Homo sapiens: one gene and its partners. The gene in region 4 interacts genetically with the main gene of each other region. Each region holds a gene or a part of one and is shown on either strand. Other genes may lie near its edges.

Region 1 (4,290 bases), on a different chromosome or scaffold from region 4:
TGAAAAATATTTTTCTATTTAATAACCAGGAAGCCATTTGTGGCCTTATTTATTTATTTATTTATTTTGAGATGAATTCTTGCTCTGTCGCCCAGGCTGCAGTGCAATGTCATGATCTCGGCTCACTGCAACCTCCACCTCTCGGGTTCAAGTGATTCTCCTGCTGAGAATCACTCAGGAGGCTGAGGCCTCCTGAGTAGCTGGGATTACAGGCGCACGCCACCACACCCGGCTAATTTTTGTATTTTTAGTAGAGACAAGGTTTCACCATGTTGGCCAGGCTGGTCTTGAACTCCGGACCTTGTGATCCACCCGCCTTGACCTCCCAAAGTGCTGGGATTACAGGCATGAGCCACCACGCCCAGCCTTGTGGCCTTATTAAGGACAATTTTGGGATGTGTGGGTAAAGAAGCTAAATTAGAAAGTTAGAGGCAAGAATGAATGCAGATGAGTGCTTCCCACCCAACCAGCAGCTTCAGAATCAGAGGAACCTGCTATAATAATGGTACAAATTGAGATCCCAGGTCCCACCTTTGTAAAATCCTATTTCATAGGATTCAAAAGGATCCCAGAATCTGCATTAGTAAAAAATCTCATGTGGCCGGGTGCGGTGGCTCACACCTGTAATCTCAGCACTTTGGCTCAGGCGGGCAGATCACCTGAGGTCAGGATTTTGAGACCAGCCTGGCCAAAAAGCTGTACGTTTCTTTAGGAAAGCCTGGGCCAGGCGTAGTGGTTCACACCTGTAATCCCAGCACTTTGGGAGGCCAAGGTGGGAGGATCACGAGGTCAGGAGTTCGAGACCAGCCTGGCCAAATGGTGAAACCCATCTCTACTAAAGACACAAAAAAATTAGACAAGCATGGTGACGCACACCTGTAATCCCAGCTACTTCAGGGGCTGAAGCAGGAGGATTGCTTGAACCATGGAGGTTAAGGCTGCAGTGAGCCAAGACTGCACCACTGTACTCTAGCCTGGGGGACAAAGTGAGACCATTTCTGAAAAACCAAAACAAAACAAAACAAAACTGCAGTTTCTAACTGGCTTTGCAAGTTGATTCAGTCAATAAAGGCACTAATTAATGGTGGGAGTCATTATTTGCCTTTAGCGTTAATACATGATAATCAGATTAAGATCCATTAGTTTAAGGTCTTGTAGTCTGCTATCAATTTTTGCAAAGGAAATATGTATACACAAAGACTTAGAAAAACCTCTCAGCTGGGCGCAGTGGCTCACGCCTGTAATCCCAGCACTTTGGGAGGCCAAGGCAGGCAGATCACGAGGTCAGGAAATTGAGACCACCCTGTCCAACATGGTGAAACCCCGTCTCTACTAAATATACAAAAATTAGCTGAGCATGGTGGTGCACGCCTGTAGTCCCAGCTACTCGGGAGGCTGAGGCAGGAGAATCACTTGAACCCGGGAGGCAGAGGCTGCAGTGAGCCAAGATCTGCACCACTGCACTCCAGCCTGGGTGACAGCGTGAGACTCCGTCTCAAAAAATATATATATATATTTTTTTTTTTTGAAAAAGGCTACTGTTAGGTCTTTTGTTTTTTATTAATTTATTTATTTTTGTGACAGGTTCTCACTCTGTTGCCCAGGCTAGAGGGTAGTGGCATGATCATGGCTCATTGCAGCCTTAACCTCCTGGACACAGGTGATCCTCCTACCTCAGCCTCCTGAGTAGCTGGGACCACAGGCTGGCACCACTACACTGGACTAATTTTTCTTACTTTTTTATAGATATGGGGTCTTCCTATGTTGCCTACCCTGGTCTGAACTCCTAGGCTCAAGCAGCCCTCCTGCCTTGGCCTCCCAAAGTGCTGGGATTACAGGTGTGAGCCACTGCACCCGGCCTATTTATTTATTTTTGAGACAAGATACTGCCATGTCACCCAGGTTGTAGTGCAGTTGTGCAATTGTAGCTCACTGCAGTCTTGACCTCCTGGGGTCAAGTGATCTTCCTGTCTCAGCCTCCCCAGTAGCTGGGACTACTGGGCCCGCACCATGCCTATTTTTTAAAAATTCTTTGTAGAGACAGGTTCTCACTATGTTGCCGAGGGTGGTCTTGAATTCTTGGGCTAAAACAATCCTAGCACCTCGGCCTCCCAAAGTGCTGACATTACAGGTGTGAGCCACCACACCTGGTGAGGTCTTTTGACTATAATATATAAAATATCTGTGCTAGATGTTGTGGCTCATGCCTGTAATCCTAGCTCTTTGGGAGGCCAAGGCAGGAGGATTACTTGAGTCCAGGAGTTCAAGACCATCCTGGGCAACAGAGTGCAGCTCTGTTTTCTAAAAAAAACTGTTTAGTTAGCCAGGTTTCAGGGCATGTGCCTGTAGTCCTAGCTTCACAGGAGGCTGACGTGGGAGGATCACTTCAGCCAGGAGGTTCGAGGCTGCAGTGAGCCATGATCAAGTGACTACACTTCAACTTGGGTGACAGAGCAAGACCCAGGCTCTTTAAAAAACAAACAAACAAACGAAACTGGAACGGGTATGGTGGCTCACACCTGTAATGCCAGCACTTTGGGAGGCTGAGGCAGGAGGATCATGAGGTCAGCAGATAGAGGCCATCCTGGCCAACATGGTGAAACCCCGTCTCCACTAAAAATACAAAAATTAGGCCGAGCACAGTGGCTCATAACTGTAATCCCAGCACTTTGGGAGGCAGAGGCGGGCAGATCACGAGGTCAGGAGATTGAGACCATCCTAGCTAATATGGTGAAACGCTGTCTCTACTAAAAAAAAAAAAAAAATACAAAAAATTAGCCGGGTGTGGTGGCGGGCACCTATTGTCCCAGCTACTCGGGAGGCTGAGGCAAGAGAATGGCATGAACCCAGGAGGCGGAGCTTGCAGCGAGCCAAGATCGCACCACTGCACTCCAGCATGGGTGACAGAGTGAGACTCCGTCTCAAAAAAACAAAAACAAAAACAAAACAAAACAAACAAACAAAATACAAAATCAGCCAGGCATGGTGGCATGTGCTACAGGTGCCTGTAACCCCAGCTACTCGGGAAGCTGAGGCAGGAGAATCGCTTGAACCTGGGAGGTGGAGGTTGCAGTGAGCTGAGATCGCACCACTGCACTCCAGCCTGGCAACACAGCAAGACTCCGTCTCAAAAACAAAAAACACCAAACTGGCCAGGCACAGTGGCTCACGCCTGTAATCCCGGCACTTTAGTAGGCCGAGGTGGGCGGATCACCTGAGCTCGGGAGTTCGAGACCAGCCTGGGCAACGTGGCGAAACCCCGTCTCTACTAAATATACAAAAATTAGCTAGACATAGTGGCGCATGCCTGTAGTCCCAGTTGCTCAGGAGGCTGAGGCAGAATTGCTTGAACCCAGGAGATGGAGGTTGCAGTGAGCCAAGATCACGCCACTGCACTCCAGCCTGGGCAATAGAGAAAGACTATCTCAAAAACAAAAAACAAAAGCAAACTGAAGATCTAATTATACTGTAATATGTAATTTAAGCAAACTTCATTAAATACTTAAGACTTTTCGGCCAGGCGCGGTGGCTCACGCCTGTAATCCCAGCACTTTGGGAGGCCGACGCGGGCGGATCACCTGAGGTCAGGAGTTTGAGACCAGCCTGACCAATGTGATGAAACCCTGTCTCTACTAAAAATACAAAAATTAGCCGGGTGTGGTGGCATGCACCTGTAATCCCAGTTGCTCAGGAGGCTGAGGCAGGAGAATTGCTTGAATCTGGGAGGCAGAGGTTGCAATGAGCCATTGCACTCTAGCCTGGGCAACAAAAGTGAAACTCCATCAAAAAAAAAAAAAAAAAGAGTTTTCAACAGAATATGCAAGCATCAACTACTGCTTTGGAATAGTTAAGCAAAACTAGATCCCAGCATTGAAACGTTTTCTCACCTTCTTGAAAAATATCCTGTTCTCCAACTTGATACCATATCCCTACTCTCTGTATTATTAGCAGGATGAACAATAAAACAACCCAGGCTAGGCTTGGTAGCTCATGCCTCTAATCCCAGCACTTTGGAAGGCTGAGTCAGGAGGATCACTTGAGGTCAGGAATTTCAGACCAGCCTAGGCAACATAGAGAGACTCATCTCTACAAAATATATATAAAACATTATATATATAATATACATATATCTTTACATTAGGCCGGGCGTGGTGGCTCATGCCTGTAATCCCAGCACTTTGGGATGCCAGGGTGGGCGGATCATTATGAGGTTTGGAGTTCAAGACCAGCCTGGCCAACATGGTGAAACCCCATCTCTACTAAAAATACAAAAATTAGCCGGTTGTGGTG
Region 2 (3,869 bases), on a different chromosome or scaffold from region 4:
CTCTGGGCCTTGGCCTCAATGTGGAGAAGGGTGACTCCTCACCAGGGGAGAGGGGCCCAGAGCCACAGAGCCACAGACAGAATGGGACCTGGTAACCCATCACCAAAAGGCCACTGGTGCTCTGTTTGGCCTCTGTACTCTGCCTCCCCTGATGATAATGGGAGGAGTCCGAGATATTCCACATCTTCCCCTCAGAGCCACAAACCGGAGGGAAGTGGAGAGCCGGAGCTCAGGCCTCGAGTCTAGTGAGGCGCGTCAGAAATTCGCAGGAGCCAAAGCCATCTCATCTGACATGTTCTTTGGGCGGGAGGTGGATGCAGAGGTAAGTGGGGCTGTCTGCCCTGAGGTCCGAGGCAGCAGGCAGAAGCATGAGCTTTCTCCCTGCCGCTGCTTTGGGCTTTAGCACCAGGAGGGCCTGGCCTGTGTGAGTCCTTGGGTCATCAGCCCCAAGATCCCCAGGCCTGGCCTTTTCCTCACCACAGTATGAGGCCAGGTCTCGGCTGCAGCAGCTCTCAGGCAGCAGTGCCATCAGCTCTTCAGACCTCTTTGGGGACATGGATGGAGCTCACGGAGCAGGTAGGGCCCTGGTGGGGTGGCAGGCACCAAGTGAGGCCTGGGAGCAGGGCGGGAGGGCCCTGCTGTGACTGGGAAGGGCTTCTTGCTGGGCTCTGGGTCACCCTGCTCTTGTTTTACAGGAAGTGTATCTCTGGGGAACGTGCTGCCTACAGCGGACATTGCCCAGTTTAAGCAGGGTGTCAAGTCTGTGGCTGGGAAAATGGCTGTGCTGGCCAATGGTGTGATGAATTCCTTGCAGGTGAGGCTGAAGTGGGGCCTAATGAGGAGTGCTGGGAGGTTTGCCCTTCGCCACCACATAGAGACACTGCTACTGCTCAGCCCCTCTGAGCCTTAAGAGCATTTTCGGCCGGGTGTGGTGGCTCACGCCTGTAATCCCAGCACTGGGAGGCTGAGATGGGTGGATCACTTGAGGTCAGGAGTTTGAGACCAGCCTGACCAACATGGCAAAACCCCGTCTCTACTAAAAATACAAAATTAGCTGGGCATGATGGCGTGCACCTGTAATCCCGCTACTCGGGATGCTGAGGCAGGAGAATCGCTTGAACCTGGAGGTTGTAGTGAGCTGAGATCATGCCACTGCACTCCAGTCTGGGTGACAGGAGTGAAACTCTTGTCTCAAAAAAAAAACCACAAACGAAAAAGCAAGAGTCTAGAGAGAGGCATTTTCTTGGAGGGCAGCTTCCTTCCTTTCAGCTCCGTGCCAGGGCCGGGCCTCTCCAAGATGCCTCTGTGTCTGCCATGATCTTCCCTGGCCTTGTCACCTGTACCGCTCTTTCTCTTCTCTTCCCAGCTTCTGTGAGGCCAGGCAGGGCTTCCCTGTTGTCGGGTGCCCGAGTGGCCGCTGCCCCAGCTCTCACCGTGGACTCCTGCCTCACCGGGCTGTCCAGCCCCTGCCTCCCCAGTCTTGCTGTGGGGTGCTGGGGCAGGCAGTGTGTTTGCTGGGAAGCTGCTGCAGCTTAGAGCCTCTGACTTTTTTTTTTTTTTTCTCCCCCCTCGCCCCCAGGATCGCTACGGTTCCTACTGATCCGAGCTCTGTGACTCAGGCTTACGATGGTGACGGCAACAAGAACTCCACAGTTCCCAGGCTGGGGATGCTTTGCCTTGTGGAAGCTGGGGAGGATTTGTTACTTCGTATGTGTGGTGTGTGTGTGGGGTGGCCTTTGAGGCGCTCACTCCTGTGAGGGGAATGGTCAGTACCAGCCCTTGTCCTCTGCCTGTGGACTGAGCCCTTTATTCCCTCTCACACCACCCTCCGTGTGTTAGACTCTTGTCCTTCTGTCCTGCCCCCACAGCTGCTGCTCACTTATCCTGCCATACTGGGAAAGGGGGTTCCCCCACGATGGCTTATTCTGGGTCCAGACTTTCCCCAGGTAGGGAAAGCGGAAGGTAGAAGGCTTTTTTTGCTGGCTCTAGGGTTCTTCTAGTTCGAGGCCTTGGGTCCCCATCCTCTGGAACCAGGGGGAGGCCTGGAAGGAGTTCACTGTAGACCCGTCCCATGGGGAAAGAGGCTGCGGACTTGCTGCTGCTGCTGCTGCCAGTGGCCTCTTCTGGGTGCCAGGAGAGGGGAAGGACCTTTGTCTGGGCGTTACCAAGGGCTGGAAACTTTACCTGGTACCTAAAGGTTTCATTTGGGATCAGACCGGAGACCCTTGGGTTCTCCCGTCTCACCACCCCTTTCTACAGTAAGCACTTGGAAGATTGTTTCAGGGTGTCTCAGGGTCCCTCTGTACCATCTGCTGTGGAATGCAGGACCCTCTGTGACATTCTTTATCCCTTCTTCCCCGGGTTGGTGGCCATGGAGGGTCTTGTCTGCTGTGATTCGACTCTGGATGCTGTGAGCTTGATGCTGGCCAGGGAAGCAGAGGATGTGAGAGGCAGAGGCAGGCTCCTGGGGCTGAGCTCCTTCCTCTGCATCATTCTGGGCTTGGCCTGGACAGCACCCGCCAGTGAGAGCTGTGGGCCTCACCCTCTGGCAGCTGAGCCAAGCACTGTCATTCTTGGTGCCATCTTCCCCTGCCGCACCGGCAGTCTCAGCCCAGCCCCCACCTTTGGGTTGTAGGTTGGGCTCCCAAGCAACACAGACCACTCTTCCCCTTGCCCCTCCCCCAGAGGGACTTGACTTTCTTTCTGGACTGTTTGTATTGAAACAAAGTGGTGTCAAAATAAAGCCCCTGCAGGGCCTGGCTCCCTGTTGGTCTGAGTGAAGCAGTGTCCTCTGGATCCTGCCTCCCTGCCCAGTGCCGGCCCCTGGCCTCACTCTCTGGGCTCCCACCGGTAATGGTAGGGCGTCGGTACCGAAGCTGAGGACACTCTCTCCAGGGCCTCCTGCTTCTCTCTTCTCTGAAAGCCAAAGGCCCCTGGCTCCTTGGCTCTGTGCTGCCGTGAGGTCCGGTGCAGCTTCGACCTCACCACCCTGTGGCACGCAGAGGAAAGAGCTGGCATTAGTTGGCCCTTTAACTCGCTGGCTGAGGGCGAGCGAGCAACCTCAGCAGTCCTGCCCCTTGTCACGGCAGTAGGCTTGACTGGGGATGGGTTTCAGTGGAGTTTAAGAAATATTTAACGCCGGGTACAGTGGCTCATGGCTGTCATCCCAGCACTTTGGGAGGCTGAGGCGGGTGGATCACTTGAGGCTAGGAGTTTGAAACCAGCCTGGCCAACATGGTGAGACCCCATTTCTACTAAAAATACAAAATTAGCGGGGTGGGGGCGGTGTGGTGCATGCCTGTAATCCTAGCTACTCAGGAGGCTGAAGCAGAAGTCACTTGAACCCGGGAGGCAGAGGTTGCAGTGAGACTAGATCGCGCCACTGCACCCCAGCTTGGGTGATAAAGTGAGACCCTGTCTCAAAAAAGAAAAAATTACATATATATACATACACACACATACTCTTAGACGTTAATGGGACCCTTTAAATTTAGGGAAGAAAAGGTGTGTGTTTGTGTGTAAATCCTTAGCTTGGCCACCCCTTTCTCTTGGGGGCTTCTGAAACATCTCTGTGCCACCTTAGGAGTCCTCACGGTAGTTACAGACCACTGGTCTGGGAAGTGGATGATTAGAAAGGATGGGCAGAGGGAGCCAGGGGGCTGTAAGCCAGGGATTTGCAGAGTGTAGGTTTGGGACTCATTCAGCTTTGGGATCATCTGGAATTTCTGGACTCCATCCCAAGTTGATAGAGTTAGACTCTCTGGAGCTTGGTAATTTGCATCGTCAGTAGGCTTTCCTGTGATTCTGAGGACACCAGGATTTGAGAACCATGTCTCTTATGGGCTGTGCATCATTGTGGGCCTACAGAG
Region 3 (4,290 bases), on a different chromosome or scaffold from region 4:
TCCCTTCAGAGGCAGTTTATGCACAGGATGCCCCTATCATCCTTTCACATGAAATCCCATGCCTGCCCCTATACTAACAAGCCAATATTGATCTTCTTACATAAAAACAACTAAAGACAATTTAAAAAAATTTAAACCACCTACATTAGCATAGAATTCATCATTTTCAGCAGATAGGACCACTTCTCTTAAGTCTTTACTGATTCCCGGCACTCTGGAAAGATCAATCCGATTGTTGTTTATGCCTAGTAGTTCGTGGACCATGGCCTGATATGTCCACTAAATAAAGAATTATGAAAAAAAAAGGTAACTGACAGAATATGGAAATAGTAAACGTTCAGGAAAACAAATAAAAACTGATAACATTCTTTAACTAGTCTTCTTTACATGAAGATTCTCGAGTTAAATTTTATTCATACTTTGTGCTATAAGCATTAAGACTGTCATTTTAATTGATTAAACACTGAAGAAAAGTCAAAATACTTTTAGATTTCATACTTTTGGAAAAAGGGCAGCAAGATTAATATTCTTGATAGAAAGAAAACAAATTAGAGCTATTATTAGCTCCAATTTTTTGCCTGTGAATTAAGAGTATATTTTTGGCTTCACAGATAGAGCTATATTGGTACTGCAGTTACAAGCTGTACCATTTCCTGTATGCTTCTATGGTTTTCTGCAGCATGAGAAGTGTGTTCTTGCAGATCTGAGTGGTACTATATTTGTCCTGGGAACACTAATATTATCAGAAAAACCTTGTGAGTTGATCAAAACACTGGGATATTCAGAAACTTACCTTTGAACCCATTTTATTTTATATTTTTACCTAAGGGGAGATGAGAGGAAGGACTGGTTTCCAGTCTCACAAATTGAGAATTTATTTGGTAAAACTGGAAATGAGAAATCTCCAAATTTTCCCTTTTCACCAATTATGGAGAATAGATTACTTTCAGTCATAGGTCTGTTAGACAAAATGAAGTATTTTCTAGCATGTTCCCTTCTGCATCTAGAATCTAAATGCTAGAAATATTTATATACATATTTTATCTTAAGAAAACTAGATTTATTAAGAAATAATTTAGAAGGTTATAAAAGAAGGTGCTTATTTCCTAAAAGATTTGCCAAAGGAATTCTTGAAAAAGCAAGTTCCATTAAGTCGCACTTAAAATAAGTACAACAAGGCTGGGCATGGTGGCTCATGCCTGTAATCCCAGCACTTTGGGAGGCTGAGGTGGGTGGATCACTTAAGGTCGGGAGTTCGAGACCGGCCTGACCAACATGGTGAAACCCCATCTCTACTAAAAATACAAAACTAGCCGAGCATGGTGGCACATGCCTGTAATCCAAGCTACTCAGGAGGCTGAGGCAGGGAATCACTTGAACCCAGGAGGCGGAGGTTGTAGTGAGCCAAGATCACACCATTGCACTCCAGCCTGGACAATAAGAGCAAAACTCCATCTCAAAAAAAAAAAAACGTACAACAAAATGTTTTATGCTTTTATGGATAGCTTCTTGTACATGCTTCTAGCACTTACTCTACAATTAAAATTATGTTTATTTTTCTCATAATTGGACCATGAGCTCTTTGAGGACAGAAATTGTAACTTTTAACCTTTTATCTCTAGTACTTAGTTTAGTACGTGGCACAAAAGAAGTCCCCAGTGAAATCTGTGGGATAAATAGTTGCTTTTCTTTGGGAGACAGAATAATAGGCAATTAATTTTCTTTCTACTTTTTGATATTATCAAAAGTTTCTTTGGTGAACATATATTACTTTGAATTTTAGGAATACAAGGCTATTTTATACTACAGAGAAGTTTCACTCCACAGATTTCCCTTAGCATTAACATTAGTACAAGCTGGGAAGAAACTGAAACATAGACTGTGCCTTTCTCTGTAAATACAAAGTCACAGCCGGGCGTGGTGGCTCACGCCTGTCATCTTAGCACTTTGGGAGGCCGAGTCGGGCAGATCACTTGAGGTCAGGAATTCGAGACCAGCCTGGCCAATATTTAGACAGAAACCTTGTCTGTACTAAAAATATTTAATACAAAAATTAGCCAGGTGTGGGGGTGTGCACCTGTGATCCCAACTACTCAGGAAGCTGGGGCATGAGAATTGCTTGAACCTGGGAGGCGGAGGTTGCAGTGAGCTGAGATCACGCCAATCTGGGTGACAGAGAGAGACTCTGTCTCAATAAATACATACACACATACAAAATCACTATTAATAGAGCACCCGCTATGTGCACTGTTCTTATACTTGAAGGAGAAAAAACACTGGTGAGACTCAGTCTGCCTTGAAGAAATATGTAACGTAGGAGAGGATGTAAACAACCAAAGCTACAACATGGCAAGTACAGCATGAGACATGAGAGAGACACAAAGGTCTACAAGTCTACAGGGATTTTCAGGAGATAAGAACAATATCTGACTGAAAGAATACAGGCTTCGAGATGTTGAAGAATGGCTGGATGTTGGAGATGGCTTTTGAGTGTTTTTTTTTTTTTTTGAGACAAGAGTTTCGCTCTCGTTGCCCAGGCTGGAGGACAGTGGCATGATCTCGGTTCACTGCAACCTCTGCCTCCCAGGTTCAAGTGATTCTCCTGCCTCAGCATCCTGAGTAGCTGGGATTACAGGCATCTGCCACCACGTCCAGCTAATTTTTTGTATTTTTAGTAGAGACAGGGTTTCATCATGTTGGCCAGGCTGGTCTCAAACTCAGGACCTCAGGTGATCTACCCACCTCGACCTCCCAAAGTGCTGGGATTATAGGTGTGAGTCACCGCGCCCGGCTCTTCTTTTTTTTATTCTTTGCTATTATTCATATAAATCATTTTATTTATTTATTTATTTATTTTTGGAGACGGAGTCTTGCTCTGTCGCCCTGGCTGGAGTGCAGTGGCATGATCTCAGCTTACTGCAACCTTCGCCTCCTGGGTTCAAATGATTCTCCTGCCTCAGCCTCCCAAGTAGCTGGGACTACAGGTGTGTGCAACCACACCCGGCTAATTTTTTTGTAGTTTTAGTAGAGACGGGGCTTCACCATGTTGGCCAGGTTAGTCTTGAACTCTTGACCTCAGGTGATCCAGCCACCTTGGCCTCCCAAAGTGCTGGGATTACAGGCGTGAGCGACCGTGCCCGGCCAGATTGAGTGGTTTTAACAGCAGTATTTTGATAGGTGAAGATGGGAAGAGAAGGTATTCCAAACATTCTAGAGTTTAGAAAGCAGTCACAGTAAAAGCATGCTGGCAGGAAACCATGTGGCATTATCTATGTAAGTGGTGAACTCTAGGTTTTATAAGAGGTTTAGCCCACATTGTGAAGGCTCTTGGATGCCAAGTTCAGGAGTTTCTTTTTAACCTAGTAGGCAAATGGGAACCAATGAAGTTTTTTAAGCCAAGAGTAATAAGATAGAGCTGTGCTTTAGGAAATTGTACTTGTGGAACATTTGGAGTGAGAAGAAATAAAAAGTAGGGAACGAAGTAGATGACTATTTCAATATTCTTGCAAGAGATTAGGATCTAGACCAAGGCAATGGCTGTAAGCATGGAAATGAGGAGACAGAAGGAAACACAGGGAAATAGAATCTACAGAATTAAGAAGCTGTCTTGATTAGGGGTGGAGGTACTGGCAGAAAGGTACAGGAGAGATGAAGCAGAAGAGTTATGATGACAGTGGATGGAAGAATCATGATACCAAAACACCAGGAAATACAAAGCAAAACCAAGAATAGCTAAAAATAAGGAGGCAAATAAATGGACCATGTTTTTACTTCCCTATCTGTATTTTGATGAATATCACTTAAAATTATCCTTCTATTATGCCAAGAAAGGGTTTTGTACCTGGTTTAGCAATGGGGTGATGGCATCATCACAGCGATCTAAAATAAGGAGCAATGGAGGAACCTCTGTCCGACGGAATTCAAACAGTTCATATTCTTTAGTTATCACTTGCTGTGGGTGAGAGAGAAAGATGGTTTGTGCAACCATCTAGTTACATATAGAAATGATATAAATAGGAAATTAATAAACACTACATTTAACAATAGTTCTTTGCACCCACATAGATCTTCCATATGAAGGATTCAAAAGTCTCACAAAGTTTAGTAGCATACTATTTAAGAGGTTAGGATATGAAACCCTATTTTATAAGTGGTTTAACTGGACCAAAAAAAGTTAAATAGCTTGTGAATGTTTCTTGGGTTAAACCTAAGAATCTTAGCTCTAATTGTTGCTTTTTGTTTTAAATTACATATACCTACCTCTTTTCGCGGAAACCTAACATACAATCA
Region 4 (4,290 bases):
TTCATAAAGCTAAAGTGTATATTTGACAGTGAATTTGAACATTATGGATATGCACCAAATAACTATTAAATAACAAAGTAATTTTCATAAAGCAAAAGTTTCAGGAGATACCATGAGAAATTGACATAAATATATTAGCAGTAAGAGACTTAATTCACTGTTTCGGTCCAAGGCAGATCAAGTGGACAAAAAAGTAAGGATATAGGAGATCTAAACAAATCAATAAAGAGGACTTAGTTAATATATATTGAGCTCTAGGCCCTGAAAACAGAGAGCACCCCTTCTTTCTAGGTCCCAAGAACAATTCACAAAAATTCACTATATAGGCTCTATTGAAAGGAAAGGAGGAATTATAGGCATAGGGGATTTTAGGACAAGGGAACTACTCTGTGTGATACTATAATGACAGATACATGTTGTTATACATTTGTCAAAACCCATAGAATATACAACACCTAGAGTGAGCCCTCATATAAATTGTGGAGTTTCAGTGATAATGATGTGTTCATGTTAGTTTATGGATCGAAACAAATAGACCTTTATGATGTGCGATGTTGGTGGTGAGAAAGGTTATGTGGTTGGGAAATGTGTAGCAATTTTTTGTACTTTGTGGCTCAACTTTTCTAGGAACGTAAAACTCTAAAAGATAAAGCATATAGCTTTTTTTATTTTTAATCAAAATCCTATGAAAGGTGAAAAGAAATTTTTTTTTTGAAAAAAGCAAAGTCAAAAGATAGTCTATCAACTTAATAGAAAAATTGTCGAATGATGGCCGGGCGCAGTGGCTCACCCCTGTAATCCCAGCACTTTGGGAGGCTGAGGAAGGTGGATCACCTGAGGTCAGGAGTTCGAGGCCAGCCTGGCCAACATGGTGAAACCCCGTCTCTACTAAAAATACAAAAAAATTAGCCTGATGTGGTGGTGTGTGCCTGTAATCCCAGTTACTTGGGAGGCTGAGACACCAGAATCGCTTGAACCCGGAGGCAGACGTTGCAGTGAGCCGAGATCGCCCCACTGTGCTCCAGCCTGGGTGACAGAACGAAACTCCATCTCCAAAAAAAAAAAAAAAAGAATAGAAAAGAAAAATGGTCAAATAATACATGACTAGACAGAAGAGATGACAGAAAAGGAAATATGTTTACCCATAGTCATACAAAAAAAAGATGTTATACATCATTTATAGTATTACTATACAGAGCTAACATTTTTATTTTTCTCTTTTTTTTTTTTGAGTCATGGTCTCACTCTGTCGCCCAGGCTGGATTGCAGTGGCGCAATCACGGCTCACTGCAGCCTCAACTTCCCGGGCTCAAACAATCCTTCCTCCTCAACCTCCCGAGTAGCTGGGACTACAGGCGTGCACCACCATGCCCAGCTAATTTTTGTATTTTTTCTAGAGATGGGATTTCACCATGTTGTCCAAGCTGATCTTGAACTCCTGGGCTCAAGCAATCCACTTGCTTCGGCTCCTAAAGTGCTGGGCTTACAGGCCTGAGCCACTGCACCTGGCCTTTCATTTTTTAGTGTTGGTATGATCTAAAAGTGTGACAGTATGCTCTGATAAGGCTGTAGGGCAATAAGTAATCGTATATTACTGTTGGTGGTATGAAAAGGCACAATTGCCATAGAGGACAACTTGGTAATATTCATCAAAATTAAAATTGCATTAACCTTTTAACTTAGCAATTTTACTTCTGGAAATTTATAGCTGTCCCTTTTTAATGAAATAACGTGCAGATGACCATTTATTTCAGCACTTTTTTGTAAAAATAGCTAAAAACAGCTTAGGTGTTTGTTGGTATTAGACTAGGTAATTATGGTACATCTTATAGTGCAGTACTATGCCATTTCAATATATTTATGTAAAAATAACAAAGATCTTTAAAAAGTACATAATACTATACCGTTGTAATTTTTCCATCAAAGTAACTTTTTTTTTGAGACCGAGTCTCGCTCTGTTGCCCAGGCTGGAGTGCAGTGGCATGATCTCGGCTCAATGTAACCTTCACCACCTGGGTTCAAGTGATTCTTCTGCTTCAGCCTCCCAAATAGCTGGGATTACAGGCATGCACCACCACACCTGGCTAATTTTCTTGTATTTTTAATAGAGACGGGGTTTTGCCATGTTGGCGAGGCTGGTCTCGAACTCCTGGCCTCAAGTGATCCAACTGCCTCGTCCTCCCAAAGTGCTGCGATTGCAAGCATGAGCCACCATGCCTGACTCCATCAAAGTAACTTTAATGACAGAAAATACGTAAACAAGTGGTATATGGGATTATACCTTGAAGTGACCAGTTTTCTAATAATTTCTACTTTATCTTTAAAATCTGTGGGCTTACTATATTCTCTCTAATATGTTGTAACTTTGAATTAATTTTTTAAACTGCTCTTATCATTGAGTAATCCTACTCCAGGAAGTTGCACCTTATTTATTTTTTGGCTGCTCTTACCCGTAATGTTTTGTCATCCATCCTAGTTGGATAAACACATGTGTAGCAAAGTTAATTCTTCAGGTACTACCTTATTATTTTTGTGGGCTATTTTTCTAGACTGATTCAACTGAAGAACTATAATCTGTAAACAGAATAGCCCAGTATTTGTCTCAAAATGGTTTATCAAGTTTGTCTTTTTTTTTTTTTTTTTTTTTTTTTTTTTTTGAGATAGAGTCTTGCTCTCTCGCCCAGGTTGGCATGCAGTGGTGCAATCTCAACTCACTGCAAGCTCTGTCTTCCGGGTCATGCCATTCTCCTGCCTCAGCCTCCTGAGTAGCTGGGACTACAGGTGCCCGCCACCACGCCCGGCTAATTTTTTGTATTTTTAGTAGAGATGGGGTCTCACCATGTTAGCCAGGATGGTCTCAATCTCCTGACCTCGTGATCCGCCCGCCTTGGCCTCCCAAAGTGCTGGGATTACAGGCATGAGCCACCCGGCCTCAAGTTTGTCTTCTTTCTAATGAATATATCCAACAAATGACACCTAAACCGATTTGATTTATTTGCAGTTGGGCATTACTAATGTTGTAGTGGTTTGTTCAGTATGTTTCTATTTAAAATATCTGTGTTCTGTGTTAGACATTCAAGTCATTCAAGGCTGTTTCTGTATAAAATATTCCCTTTAGCAGGATGAAGTTAAAGGAAGTAGATCGTACAGCCATGCAGGCATGGAGCCCTGCCCAGAATCACCCCATTTACCTAGCAACAGGTAAGTTCAAAGGAGAGAAGATAGTATGAGTTACCTAATTTCTTCTCTTCTGCACCTAGCTTATTCAGTTTAAGCTTTATCTTCTCTAGAAAGCCTCTCTCTCCCTGGCAAGTTACTGACATTCTATCAGCCAAGTTTAGTGTTCTTCCTCTGTGTTCCCATAGCATTTTGATCATGATGTGTTACATCTAAAATATTTTCCTTCACAGGAATTGTATTTTATCTTTATTCCTCCAGTATTAAGCACAATAGATGGCATGTAAAAAAAACAGTTAATATCAGTTTGAATGAATGAAGAGCAATTTTGATGTTAGCATTTTTATATAAAAAGAAATAGTTATATCATATATGTCTATAAGCAGATATAGTAAATCACGGGACTTTTTTTTTTTTGAGATGGAGTCTTGCTCTTTCGCCCAGCCTGGAATGCAGTGGCGTGATCTCTGCTCACTGCAAGCTCCACCTCCCTGGTTCCTTCCATTCTCCTGCCTCAGCCTCCCAAGTAGCTGGGACTACAGGCGTCCACCACCATGCCTGGCTAATTTTTTGTATTTTTAGTAGAGATGGGATTTCACCATGTTAGCCAGGATGGTCTTGATCTCCTGACCTCATGATCCACCCATCTCGGCCTCCCAAAGTGCTGGGATTACAGGCATGAGCCACCGTGCCCAGCCCCCATCACGGGACCATTTTTACAGAGATTTTTAAATATATACAGGCTTAAAAAATTATTTACACTACCCACTCTTATAAACATCCTCTCCTAGCCCTGTGCCAGAATCTCATTGCTATAGTAATTTAAGCATCTGCTCAATGGCATATGTGCAGCATTCATGAGCAAGAGAATGGAAAACATGCTTTTAACTTCTGTTTTGTATGGTTTCTCTGATCTTTTATTTTTGTGTGTATAGTTACCATAAATATATTTTCTATAGGAACATCTGCTCAGCAATTGGATGCAACATTTAGTACGAATGCTTCCCTTGAGATATTTGAATTAGACCTCTCTGATCCATCCTTGGATATGAAATCTTGTGCCACATTCTCCTCTTCTCACAGGTATGAGGTTCAGCTTTAAATTCATGTGAT
Region 5 (3,848 bases), on a different chromosome or scaffold from region 4:
GTTATCGTTCCCCTGCAGGGCTTCAATATCACCTCCTATCTCAAGGGGGTAAATCTTGAAGTCGTCAACATTTGTTAATAAAACGGAGTCAGCAGTGCAGTTGCTATGGCCACCAATGGGTCACAACCAAAGGCTACGACCCAAAAAAATTACACACGTCGTTTACTGGTGGTCTTCAACCTATTCAAAAAATTAGGCAAATGTTTAAATTATCGCTTAAATAACCGAAGACACATACTCCCAATTCAAAGTGGATGTGCTGGTCTATGAAGGATGCTGCTGAGATCTGGGACCAGCGGGGCCCCACAGTCACTCATCCCACCACCCCCAGCTGCAAGAGAAGCACAGCCTGGGAATGTCCCTTGGACGTCCCCCAAAGAGTCCACACTCAACTCCTGCAGAGGTCTGGGGACAGCGGCCCTGTGTGTGCCTTGGGTGGCTGGACAAGAACAGGAACTGACCACAGCCAACACGTCCACTCCCGCACCCAGGAGAAGGGAAAACCCATGGTCAGATGCAAACAGCAGCTTTCACCCCGTGTGCAACCCACACTCTGCCTCAGCACACGAGGCCCACACGGAGGGCTCAGCCCCTCCCCAGAAAGCACCAGGTACCTTTCCTCAGACCCAAGATCCACATGGTGTCCAGCGCGTCGATCAGTGTGAGACCGAGGCCAAACCACTCACTGAAGGACCTGGACACAGGCTTCAGCTCGTCATGGCCCCATGCAAACTTGCGGTATCCTTTCCATGCATGCAGGAAGACGTCAATCACGCCCTTCTGGCGATAGTTCAGATGCACTAGTAGGGGGGAGAGAGCACAGGCCATGGCGGACGTGGTCCTGGCGTCGGCACAGATGGACACCCTCAGGCAGAGCACTGCTGTGACCCCCATGGGGCAAAGATGACGGTGGGTTTGGGACGACGGGAAGGGCGGTGGTGGGCACAGCAAAGGCCAGGGCCACAGAGGCTGCAGCAGCCCCCAGGGAGAACACAGCCTGCCAAGGGCCTGAGACCTCTGGAGACTGCACAGGATGGCACCTGTCACCCGACCACCTGACTGGGGCCCATGCACCTCCACCTGGCGCCTGGGCAGGCACACCCTCCTTGGGCCTCGGTGGCCTCTGGCCAAAGGGACAAGGGTGGCTGCCCCAAGGGCGCTGGGACAGCACAGTGAGCACAGCCTGTGGAGACGTGGGTGAGTGTGGTGCCAACTCAGAATGTGAAACACGGACGGGTGCAGACCTCGCGATGAACATCCTCGACTCAAACACGCTCCTTCTGCCACGTGGGCTTCAGGTGCTCCACGGGAATCGCACTGTGCACACGCGCTACAGTCCCTTCGTTCCCTTTTTTTAAATTTTTTTGGCTGGGCACGGTGGCTCCCGCCTGTAATCCCAGTACTCTGGGAGGCCGAGGTGGGCAGATCACCTGAGGTCAGAAGTTTGAGACCAGCCTCGCCAACATCGCGAAACCCCGTCTCTACTAAAAATACAAAAATTAGCCAGGTGTGGTGGCGGGTGCCTATAATCCCAGCTACTAGGGAGGCTGAGGCAGGAGACTTGCTTGAACCCAGAAGGCAGACGTTGCAGTGAAGTGACAAAGCAAGACTCTGTCTCAAATATACACATATATATAAATTTCTTTTTTTTTTGTAGAGATGGGGCCTCACTGTGTTGTCCAGGCTGGTCTTGAACTCCTGGACTCAAGAGATCCTTCTACCTCAGCCTCCCAAAGTGCTGGGATTACAAGTGTGAGCCACCACGCCCGGCCAACATTGACTAATGTGTGGATTGACACGTGTGTAACGGCACCAAACCACACGTCCTCTCAGGAAAGGTTCTGAGGCCTCCTTGTGCTCATGGCATGTCTATGCCTCTGCCTCTGCCTCTGCCCTCATTGATGCCGCAGAGATTGCTACACATCCCTCACAGGCCCGGGGCTGGGAGTCCTGGCTCTGGGCTCCCTCCCCACCTCAGAGACACCTGGGGGGCATGATGAGAGCAGGGCTCCAGACTCAGCGACCTGCCATGAGCCCCCACAGACAAGCAAACGACTCTGGGGGTGGCTGTCCTCAGCCCTGCTTTTCAGTCTGGAGAACGGGAGGGTGAGTGGCTTATCGTGTCAGAGGGTGTCATGAGGTTGAAAGAGGCCTCAGGTCATGCACTGAGCTTGGCCGAAGGCCCGCACCTGGGAGGCCCCCAACAAACGGTGCTGAGAATGAAGTGGCCCCCAGAGCTGCCTGGGACTGGCCAGGCCGAGACAGGGGACACAGCACGGGCAGCAGTCTCCAGGGATCCCGTGGGGCAGCCTGGCCCAGACACAAACCTCTCAGACACACCTTCTTCTGCAGCCATGTGCTCAGGGACAGCAGGCCAAGAGCCACATGGTGTCACCAAGGTTGCAGAGCCTGTGAGGACTCAGACAACAGGGGGATGCTGAAGGGCAAGGTGCACACCAGGGCGGGGGCGCCACCCACCATGGCTGAGACGAAGCCTGCACCCATCAGCCACCAGCCCCTGAGCGCCCGGGGAGGAAGGGGTGCAGGTGTGGCCTCACCTGGTGTGCCCTGTGTCCTGGCCGGTGGCAGGGGAGGCTTGGTGGGCACTTCTGCTCTTCTTGAAGGGAGCTCGGTGCCCTGCTCAGGCTCGATCACCGCTCCCCTCCAGCTTCGGGGGAGAAGGAAGGGTGTCAGCTGCCGTCAAACATTTGTGGCTCCATGTTTCCCACCCCCACGCTCCATACCCACGGCCAAGGCACAGCCCTGCACCCAAAGCGGCCCCATCATCCTGAGGTGCAGGCTGCTGAGTGGCAGGAAACACACAGTTCAGTCCTGAGCTCCCGTGCCTGAGAGCCAAGACCACAGCACTGCTCCAGGGTCAAGGCTGGCCTGAGGTCAGAGACCAGAGCTTGGAGAATCGTGAGAAATCCCTCTGCAGAGGCCGGAGGCGGGGGGCCTCTATGGTGGAGGAGTAGAGAATCTTTCATCCAAACAGGAGCACTAGTGACAGTGAGGTGGCCCCAAGATGCCAGGATGGCCACACAGACGGGGGCTGTCCCTACACACGAGACGCATGGCCACTCAAACTCCCCATCGAGTTCTGTCCAATGGCCATCAGGAACAGCTATGAGGTTGTGTAGAGGGTTTGCCGCGCAACCTCCTAACTGTGGCTGGGCCCGAGCGTTCTCTTGGGGCCCTGTGGTGAATCTGTCCCAGGATCAGCAAAAGGCCTCTTACAACCACAGATGGCTTACATGCTGGGAGTACAAACGTGGCACTTTTGACAAGCTGAGGTCAAATCCTCTTTTGCTCTGGAAGTAAAGCGTCCTTGCATTCATGCCAACGCTAACTAGAGCACAGTGGCCCTCAAATTCTCCTCCTGGCCGTGAGGACCCCTCACATGCACATGTCCACGCCTCTCACCACGCGCTTGAGTTCAGGGCCTCTGGGCCCGTTTCTTCGGAGCCCATCTCTCACGGCGGACAGCGCTTGTCTCAGGCCACTCCTGCACAGCAGCCCTCACTGGCCCTGGCTCTGCCCACACTTTGTAGAAGAGAGAGGACGTCTGCGGGGAACCCTTCCTTCCGCCTCAACCACAATCAACTCCGTTTCTAAGAGCGTAACATGGAGCCGGAAACGAGGCAGAGACGCCTCCAGCACCGAAGCTCCACTGGGATCCACTACCTGGACTTGACGAACCGGGCAGAGGACAGCACTCTGGGAGCCTGGGCACCGGGCAACTCCCTCTCCCTCTGCTCTCTGCTCGACCAGATGGGGCTCGGGAAAGGAGGTGGCCCAGGCAGCCAGCGTCCACCTCTGAGCCTGGCTCCCCATCCCCACGCACCTGT
Region 6 (3,853 bases), on a different chromosome or scaffold from region 4:
TATCTTTCATGCCTTGAAAATCTGAAGGTTAATCCAAACTCACATGTTTTAGCATATTTGAGAAAAAAAAACTACCTTCAATATCAGCCTTTTAAATTTCATGAAGATTTTGGTGAGGAATAATAGTATATAGTTTAAGTATTGACAAAACTTTGAAAGTTTCTTTCTTTAAAATGGGAAATACTCAATATCTAAATCCAGGTCAGGCATGGGATATCAGTATTTAACATTGGATGTTTTATGTTTTATATTTATAATGTTCAAAATGCAAGCATAACATTTAATATTTGTCCACATGGTTTTACAAAAGTAAATCTTAAATTACTAAGCTTTTCCCATATGTTCTCGTACTTTCTCAAATCCCTATAAAGAATTACTTGTTATCTATTAAAAATCTCCTTTACCCAAATCTGTATTATGGTTTCGCCAGACAAATATTATGTGATGTAGCCCAGAAAATCCACACCTTTTGTCCTTTTTATGTTTTAATTTGAATAATCATGTGCTTAGTCCCTTGGATTACTGCCACATCAGTTTAACACGATATCAGCACATTCCCTTGTCATCATCAAGGTGTTGGCTCAGATTTATTCTTAATTGGATGTTTAAAGCATGTACTACCTTGTTACAGTTGGTTTAGTGTAGTGGATTATTGACATGACATCATGAGAAGATGTGTAATTTTATACCACATTTATAAAACATGATTTTGTTTTCTACCCTTCAAGGTAAACATTAAAAATAAGGTGGTACTTGTGTACTTGTACATAAAACCAAAATTATAGTTGGGAAAAAAATAAATTTATATATGAAAATGTCAAAATCATTTTAAAAGTATTATTTTCAAATAAAATGGAGAAGCTGGTGAAAAGTCATATTGGCAATTTTTATGTAGTTTAAGTGGAATTAAGCAGAGGGAGATGCTTTTGGGTTTTTAATATGCCACTTCTGAGTGAAAACATCTCGTGGAGTCATTGTGTTCAGCTCTGAGAAGAACAAAGATTCATAGTTCTGTACATGTGGCTGGATTTAAATATCCTGTTTTTGATACTAATTTTGAAAGTCATGTAACTTCTTTTGATATCTGGGCAAAAGTAACCATATGCTATAAGCATTTGAATATGTTTAATTTTATCATAATAGCATCTGTAAAAGTACATCTTACACATTATATAGAGGGTTCTTGTTTGAAATTTTCAGTTCTCTTTATCTTCCCAGTACCTCTTGGTCCTCATAATGGGCAAAGGATACAACGAAGGCAGGTTGTATAGGGGTTATAGTGGGGAAGTGGATAGGGGATTCATTTTCTTATGTGACATTTTGCCTTAAGAATATAAAAGTGCTTTAGCACTGATGGCTGGCATTTTTAATATAGGCAGTGAAAGTGACTTTAGAAGCATGGGATGAAATAGAGGGAAGAAGAGTTTTTATTTTCTGGCCTTTAAAAAGTGCCTAGTAGGTCATTTGAGACCCAGAGAAATGCACAGAGCTTGAGCAAAGGCATGAAGTCCCTGACATTGTTTTCCTTTTTGTCTCAGCATATAGTATTAAGATGCCTAGAAATAGGACTCTATTGTTCCCTCTTGTATAGGCACTTTACATTTCTTGTCACTACAGCAACCACATACAGTACAGACAACCTCCAAACCTGTTTATATTAGTGTAAATAGAAAATCTATAGACAACTTTCTAGTTTTCTCTGGAGGCATTTTTGGGAATGTACGTGTAATAGGCTCTGCTTTGTATACAGGAGATAATACCACATCATCGGTTATCTCCAAACTCCAGTCTTCTCTCAACTGCCCAGTTGTATGTTGTCATCAATCACTTTTTCAAGGCTGGGTAGAGACAAGTTTCTCCTCGTAACTTTGACCTCTCCCACTCTCCAAATGTAATCTGGACCTCATTGCTTTCAAGGTCAGCTTCCCCATAGCTCAGGTATCCTTTGCTCTCCTGTATCTTCATTTACTATTAGTGAAGAGATCTCTGTCCTGGAGGTTATTCTAAACTTTCTTTGTAACTATTGTTATAGACAATGGTTTCCAAACCAGTGGTTTCTATGTAGCTTTTCTAGTTCCTTGCTATCTTCTCACCACTGGCTTGAGGTAGTGATTTGGACTTTGCTCATTAGAGAGCATTATCAGAGATGTGGAGTCCATCAGAAGACCAGCTTGCAGTGTGTATAGCATATAGATGCCAATATTAGAATTCTTTAAATTATATTTAACATTTTCATGCTTCTTAATTTAACTTCACATGTTGGGAAGTAGATTCAGAAAGATAGGAGAAATACCCAGACTCTACCACTTCCGTGAGCTACTAGTTAGGCATGGGCAGGATTAAGTTTTATGTGTATTATCTTCCCACTACCAAGAATGGTTATGTTTCACAGAATACCAGTTCAGTTTGATTTGGAAAAAGATGCCAAACCAAATTTATATGTAGTCTATAATCTAAGGGCATTCTTGAAACTATTGCCCACATCCCATTTTTTTTTTCATGTTTACTTACAAAACAGAGATAAACATTAGATGTCTAAAGGAGTTAGTAATGAAAAGCCTATCCTTAAAAAATAAACCTGTTGAAATGGGCTTTAAAGACATCGAAATAATCACTTGTCATGCATTGACTGTAAATGCAGATAGAGAAATATGTCTTTGAAGCTCCACTTACACAAAAATAAAACTTGTATATCATGCTCCCTCAAAGAATGTGCGATAGATTATTTTAAGACCATGATAATAGAGTAAAAAGGAAAGAAAGCCAGAAATTACAATTTTGGATGCTAAAAAGTAACTTTCTAGTTAACCCTAAAGTCCTGTCAGATTGTGAAGAAATGTTCCAGGATACACTTGGATTAGTTATGCAGTATTTCTTATCAATGTCTAGCCCTTGTGTATTGTTCTGAAAACTAAAGTTTAAATCTTTATGCTGTTGCTTGCTAGATATCCTGTTCTTTGGTAGAAAATTCCCATAGTCTGTACTCAAGAAGTGCCTAAAAATGGATTTGTGTTGATTTTAAGCCCATCTAATAAATTATATGTATTTTCTATGGTATCGTATGGCTTGTCTTAACTGATGACACAGCCTAGAGGATTTCTGTCACAATTTGTGCTTTATTTGAATACAAAGTCTTTTTTTTTTTTTTTTTTTTTTTTTTAGACAGAGTCTCACTTTGTCGTCCAGGCTGGAGTGCAGTGGCGCGATCTCGGCTCACTGCAACCTCTGCCTCCTGGGTTCACGCCGGTTGTCCTGCCTCAGCCTCACAAGTAGCTGGGACTGCAGGCGCCTGCCACTACGCCCGGCTAATGTTTTGTATTTTTAGTAGAGATGGGGTTTCACCGTGTTAGCCAGGATGGTCTCAATCTCCTGACCTCGTAATCTGCCCGCCTCAACCTCCTAAAGTGGTGGGATTACAGGTGTGAGCCACCGCGCCTGGCCTAAATAAAAAGTCTTGAAATGGAAGATATTCACCTAACCCTCAACAAACCATGATGTAATGAAGCACGAATCACACCATTTTGTCTCTTTCCTAATTCAAATAGGTCCCTGGCATTAGTTCATGCCGAGACTAGAAAACTGAACCCTAGTACTGTTTTTTAAAACAGTTTTAACAGAAAATTAAACTGTATGTTTGAAATCATAAGTAAAAGTTTGTTGCTTGCATAAGAGTAGCCTCTTGATTCTCATAGTGGTAATTTTGTGTCATATCATTTAGATGTTGAACCATTTCATTTGTGCATGTGTATATGTGCCCAAATTCATCCTCTTTGTTTAGAATCTGCTTACAAATAAAACTAATAGAATCTGAATACATTTATCATATATTCTTCCAGGGTTTTTCTTAACTGAC
Region 7 (4,776 bases), on a different chromosome or scaffold from region 4:
CCCAGCTGATTTTTGTATTTTTAGTAGAGACAGGGTTTCACCATATTGGCCAGGCTTGTCTTGAACCCCTGACCTCAAGTGATCTGCCCGCCTCAGCCTCTCAAAGTGTTGGGATTACAGGTGTGAGCCACCGCGCCCGGCCAACACTGTTCTTTTCTGCAATCTATTCTTCTACTTAACAAAGATTAGAGGACTTTACAGTTGCCTTTTTTTTTTTTTTCCAGACGGAGTCTCACTCTGTCGCCAGGTTGGATTGCAGTGGCACGATCCCGGTTCACTGCAACCTCCGCCTCCCAGGTTCAAGCGAGTCTCCTGTCTCAGCCTCCCAAGTAGCTGGGGCTACAGGCGCGCGCCACCAGGCCGAGCTAATTTTTTGTATTTTTAGTAGAGACGGGGTTTCACCGTGTTGGCCAGGATGGTCTCAATCTCTTGACCTCGTGATCCACCCGCCTCGGCCTCCCAAAGTTCTGGGATTATAGGCGTGAGCCACTGTGCCTAGCCTGCCATTACGTTTGTAATCCCAGCACTTTGGGAGGCCGAGGCAGGCGGATCACGAGGTCAGGAGTTCGAGACCAGCCTGGCCAACATAGTGAAACCCCGTCTCTACTAAAAATACAAAAATTAGCCGGGCGTGGTGGCGCGTGCCTGTAGTCCCAGCTACTCGGGAGGCTGAGGCAGGAGAATCGCTTGAACCCGGGAGGTGGAGGCTGCAGCGAGCCGAGATGGCCCTACTGAACACCAGCCCAGGCGACAGTGTGAGATTCCTCTCAAAAGAAAAAAAAATAATAATCTTTCTGCCAGAGGTGAGAGAGCAGAAAAAAAATTAATCAGATTCTCAAATTCCTGTACGTCTCTTAGTAGAGACGGGTTTCTCCTTGTTGGTCAGGCTGATCTTGAACTCCCAATCTCAGGTGATCCGCCCGCCTCGGCCTTCCAAAGTGCTGGGATTACAGGCGTGAGCCACCGCGCCCGGCCACAAGACGTTTTATTGCAACATAAAAACAGGATGTAACGAGTCTTCCAATCACCAATGTAATTAGAGTTGGTTACCAAGTTTCCCCACGCGTCTTCCACCATGAGGGAGAAACGGACTGCAGACAAACCTAGCACCCCTTGAGCAGTTTAATTCGTACTATAAATATGTAGGCACCGTAAGGACGCGATTCTCCAGTTTGCCAGGCCTTTTTCTATCCTTTTGGGGGCACAAGGCGACCTTGCCTCCTGATTCAAAAACTTCGTAAACGTCAATCCTTCTACCCTTTTCTGGTCAGCCCACGAAAGCAGCAGCATGGCACAACTCCCAGCCTAGAGTTCGGGCACTGCCTGTCGTCAGCATAACGAAGAAACCTACACCCACGAAGACTTCAGACCCCACGTGATTACATCACTCAACCACCAGCGCTGGCCTGGAGGAACCCGCTGTCACGTGACCGCTCGTGCCCAATGACCGAGGCCCACGCTTTCCAGACCGCCACAGTCGCTGTCACAGGGCCTGAGTTTGGGCGGCGCCCCGCCCCGGCCGCACGGTGCGCCGGCGTTAATCCTCCCCGAAGGTTCCGGCAGCCAAGATTGCAGGTTCCCACCAAGCATTGTTTCCGAACTGGGCCACGAGAGCGTGTCCCTGATTGGCTTGCTCTGGAGGCTGGGAAGGGACCTGTTAGAGACTGGGACCACTTCCTGAAGCGCGAGGCAGGAAGTTATATGCTTTTTCTGGAGTCCTGTAGAGAAAGTGCTCTCTGCCGCATTGATAGCAGCGAGAGCTGGAGGTGTTGGGTCGGGAGACCAGCCGTTCGATCCCGCCGCAGGTAGGAGCTGGTTTCCATCCTGGCACCACGGCACACACCTCCAGCCTCGAGCCCGGCGCTGCTGCCCGGGGGTCTCCTTCAGGCTCTTTGACGCCGTTCCAGGGGGCACCTATCCAGGCATCCTCTGGGCCTCTAGCCAGAGGACTGGCTCCCGGCTTCAGCACTCCGGGCTGCAGTAAGAAGTGCCCTTATCGCTCTGAGCCCTGCCACCATCCCGTGAACCACCGAAACCCTGGTCCAGCGCGACAGCCTTGGACCTGGGACTGGACGGATCCAAAACGCTCAGCCTCGGCCCCCCACAGACGGGGCTCTGCATCGTCTCTGATATGTCACCCACCATCTCCCACAAGGACAGCAGCCGGCAACGGCGGCCAGGGAATTTCAGTCACTCTCTGGATATGAAGAGCGGTCCCCTGCCGCCAGGCGGTTGGGATGACAGTCATTTGGACTCAGCGGGCCGGGAAGGGGACAGAGAAGCTCTTCTGGGGGATACCGGCACTGGCGACTTCTTAAAAGCCCCACAGAGCTTCCGGGCCGAACTAAGCAGCATTTTGCTACTACTCTTTCTTTACGTGCTTCAGGGTATTCCCCTGGGCTTGGCGGGAAGCATCCCACTCATTTTGCAAAGCAAAAATGTTAGCTATACAGACCAAGCTTTCTTCAGTTTTGTCTTTTGGCCCTTCAGTCTCAAATTACTCTGGGCCCCGTTGGTTGATGCGGTCTACGTTAAGAACTTCGGTCGTCGCAAATCTTGGCTTGTCCCGACACAGTATATACTAGGACTCTTCATGATCTATTTATCCACTCAGGTGGACCGTTTGCTTGGGAATACCGATGACAGAACACCCGACGTGATTGCTCTCACTGTGGCGTTCTTTTTGTTTGAATTCTTGGCCGCCACTCAGGACATTGCCGTCGATGGTTGGGCGTTAACTATGTTATCCAGGGAAAATGTGGGTTATGCTTCTACTTGCAATTCGGTGGGCCAAACAGCGGGTTACTTTTTGGGCAATGTTTTGTTTTTGGCCCTTGAATCTGCCGACTTTTGTAACAAATATTTGCGGTTTCAGCCTCAACCCAGAGGAATCGTTACTCTTTCAGGTAGTGTATTTAAGCTATTATGGTGTTAGGTTTATTTATCCTTTTGAAAGAGTGTGTGACGTTGGAGGGAAGCTCATTAATTTACTGGAAATCATTGTATGGGAGATAACTCAAGGTAAGTTTTCTGTTTCGTCCAAATGAGCTTCTTTGAAATATTAAAGCCAAAATGAATGATATTAGAGCAATCAAATGATCACTATGCGGTTAACAGGGAGAGGCAACCCATCAAATAACACAACCGAGTCCAGGGATTCATGCCACTTGCTTAATACACAAATGCACACTTTTAAAAAGTGTGGCTCATATGGTTCACATTTTTCCTTTTGTCTTGTTGGTTTTAGGTTTCTAGCTCTATACTTTCTAATCCATTTCTACCCCTACCGTTGTACCCAGAATCCAGCCTTCTAGTGAATGGAACAGGGTTTATTCGTTCAAACATTATTGAACCAGCTAAGGGACGGGATTCTAAGGCCTCTAATGAATAAGGCAGAGTTCTGCACTCAAGAAATAAGGAAGATGAACATTTTAGGAGAGTTCAGAGTTGCCAGTTAGTAACTGCCTTTGGGAGTCAGGCTTCACATTGCAGATAACATTTGACTTTGTTCTTGAATAAGATTCCACGAGGCCAGGAAATGGCACACCAGAATGCACAACACAAAGTAAAAGTGCACTGAGGCAGGAAAGTACAAAAAAGTACAGGACATTGCCTAAATTGTGGAACTGGGTTTGGGAAATCGTGCTGAGAAAGGCTGTGACTAAATTAGTAAGATTTTCTTTAATTACTATGGGAAAAGAGTTTAAAGTTTGTCCTGTAAGTAATGGAGGGTAAGTTCTAAAAAATTTCCCTGTTTCTCTGCATGAGTAAAACACATGTAAGTTTTTCTCTTTTTTCTTTTTTCTTCTTTTTTTTAATTGAGATAGTTGGGGGTCGGGGGGGCTGTCTCACTATGTTGGCCAGGCTGGTCTTGAACTCCTGGCCTCAGGTGATTCTCCCCCTCCTTGGCCTCCCAAAGTACTGGGAATTATAAGTGTGAACCACCCCACCTGGCCTAAGCTTTTTTGTTTGTTTGTTTGTTTTTAACTTTTGTAACAACTAGAAAACAAGTAAAATGACCAATATCAGGAATAACAATGTCAGGAATATAGTGAAATTCTTCATTCTGTCAGTGATGATGAATTTAGGGGATTCTGTTTTGAAATTTAAGCAACTGAACTTCTCAGCTTCTGTGCTACCTTGGAAATTCACAGTAGAGTAAATGTCCAGGTATGTGGTGGTGGTAGGAGGTGTCACAACTACACTATTTTCCTGCAATCTTATTCTCACAGACATCTAACCTTATGTACACCTCCTCAAACTGCTAATGAGTGAGCCACTATTACTGGTGAAATGATGGTGATAGTACTTTTTCCTCAGTTGTTTGGTTGAGAGATAATTGCTTTGCACCCAGGTAGATTTGTCTCAGTGTTCTGGGGTTCCACTCCTGCTTTATGAATAATTCACTGCTGGCCGGGCACAGTGGCTCACACCTGTAATCCCAGCACTTTGGGAGGCTGAGGTGGGAGGATCACTTGAGGTCAGGAGTTTGAGACCAGCCTGGCCAGCATGGCGAAACCCCATTTTTGAGACTCTGTCTCAAAAATAAATAAATAAATAAAATAAAAAATAAGTCACGACTGGGCACAGTGGCTCACACCTGTTATCCCAGCACTTTGGGAGTCTGAGGTGGGAGGACTGCTTGAGCTGAGGAGGTAGAGCCAGCTTGGGCAATACAGCAAGACCTCATCTCTACTAAAAATTAAAAAAAAAAAAAAAATAGCTGGGTGTTTTGCGAAGGCCTGTAACCCTAGCTACTCAGGAGGCTGAGGCAGG

Evidence for each region.
Region 1: changes in SEC31A (region 4) and SEC24A together harm fitness less than expected from each alone (positive genetic interaction), as found in Homo sapiens cells (one large-scale study listed by BioGRID).
Region 2: changes in SEC31A (region 4) and ARFGAP2 together harm fitness less than expected from each alone (positive genetic interaction), as found in Homo sapiens cells (one large-scale study listed by BioGRID).
Region 3: changes in SEC31A (region 4) and VPS45 together harm fitness less than expected from each alone (positive genetic interaction), as found in Homo sapiens cells (one large-scale study listed by BioGRID).
Region 5: changes in SEC31A (region 4) and MAN1B1 together harm fitness less than expected from each alone (positive genetic interaction), as found in Homo sapiens cells (one large-scale study listed by BioGRID).
Region 6: changes in SEC31A (region 4) and ARL5A together harm fitness more than expected from each alone (negative genetic interaction), as found in Homo sapiens cells (one large-scale study listed by BioGRID).
Region 7: changes in SEC31A (region 4) and SLC33A1 together harm fitness less than expected from each alone (positive genetic interaction), as found in Homo sapiens cells (one large-scale study listed by BioGRID).

The regions. Positions count from the first base shown.
Region 1 is NC_000005.10:134,651,446-134,655,735, reverse strand, and holds part of SEC24A (protein transport protein Sec24A), read right to left. Parts: intron 1-4,290. UniProt on the Homo sapiens protein: Component of the coat protein complex II (COPII) which promotes the formation of transport vesicles from the endoplasmic reticulum (ER).
Region 2 is NC_000011.10:47,163,213-47,167,081, reverse strand, and holds the end of ARFGAP2 (ADP-ribosylation factor GTPase-activating protein 2), read left to right. Parts: intron 1-195; coding exon 196-322; intron 323-482; coding exon 483-576; intron 577-695; coding exon 696-814; intron 815-1,579; coding exon 1,580-1,600; 3' UTR 1,601-2,781; downstream 2,782-3,869.
Region 3 is NC_000001.11:150,077,331-150,081,620, reverse strand, and holds part of VPS45 (vacuolar protein sorting-associated protein 45), read right to left. Parts: intron 3,953-4,290; coding exon 3,842-3,952; intron 280-3,841; coding exon 145-279; intron 1-144. UniProt on the Homo sapiens protein: May play a role in vesicle-mediated protein trafficking from the Golgi stack through the trans-Golgi network.
Region 4 is NC_000004.12:82,880,769-82,885,058, reverse strand, and holds part of SEC31A (protein transport protein Sec31A), read left to right. Parts: intron 1-3,118; 5' UTR 3,119-3,122; coding exon 3,123-3,201; intron 3,202-4,136; coding exon 4,137-4,260; intron 4,261-4,290. UniProt on the Homo sapiens protein: Component of the coat protein complex II (COPII) which promotes the formation of transport vesicles from the endoplasmic reticulum (ER).
Region 5 is NC_000009.12:137,096,648-137,100,495, reverse strand, and holds part of MAN1B1 (endoplasmic reticulum mannosyl-oligosaccharide 1,2-alpha-mannosidase), read right to left. Parts: intron 2,669-3,848; coding exon 2,559-2,668; intron 801-2,558; coding exon 615-800; intron 1-614. UniProt on the Homo sapiens protein: Involved in glycoprotein quality control targeting of misfolded glycoproteins for degradation.
Region 6 is NC_000002.12:151,798,001-151,801,853, reverse strand, and holds the end of ARL5A (ADP-ribosylation factor-like protein 5A), read left to right. Parts: 3' UTR 1-3,057; downstream 3,058-3,853. UniProt on the Homo sapiens protein: Lacks ADP-ribosylation enhancing activity.
Region 7 is NC_000003.12:155,851,353-155,856,128, reverse strand, and holds the start of SLC33A1 (acetyl-coenzyme A transporter 1), read left to right. Parts: upstream 1-1,701; 5' UTR 1,702-2,131; coding exon 2,132-2,906; coding exon of another isoform or gene 2,907-3,021; intron 3,022-4,776. UniProt on the Homo sapiens protein: Acetyl-CoA transporter that mediates active acetyl-CoA import through the endoplasmic reticulum (ER) membrane into the ER lumen where specific ER-based acetyl-CoA:lysine acetyltransferases are responsible for the acetylation of ER-based protein substrates, such as BACE1.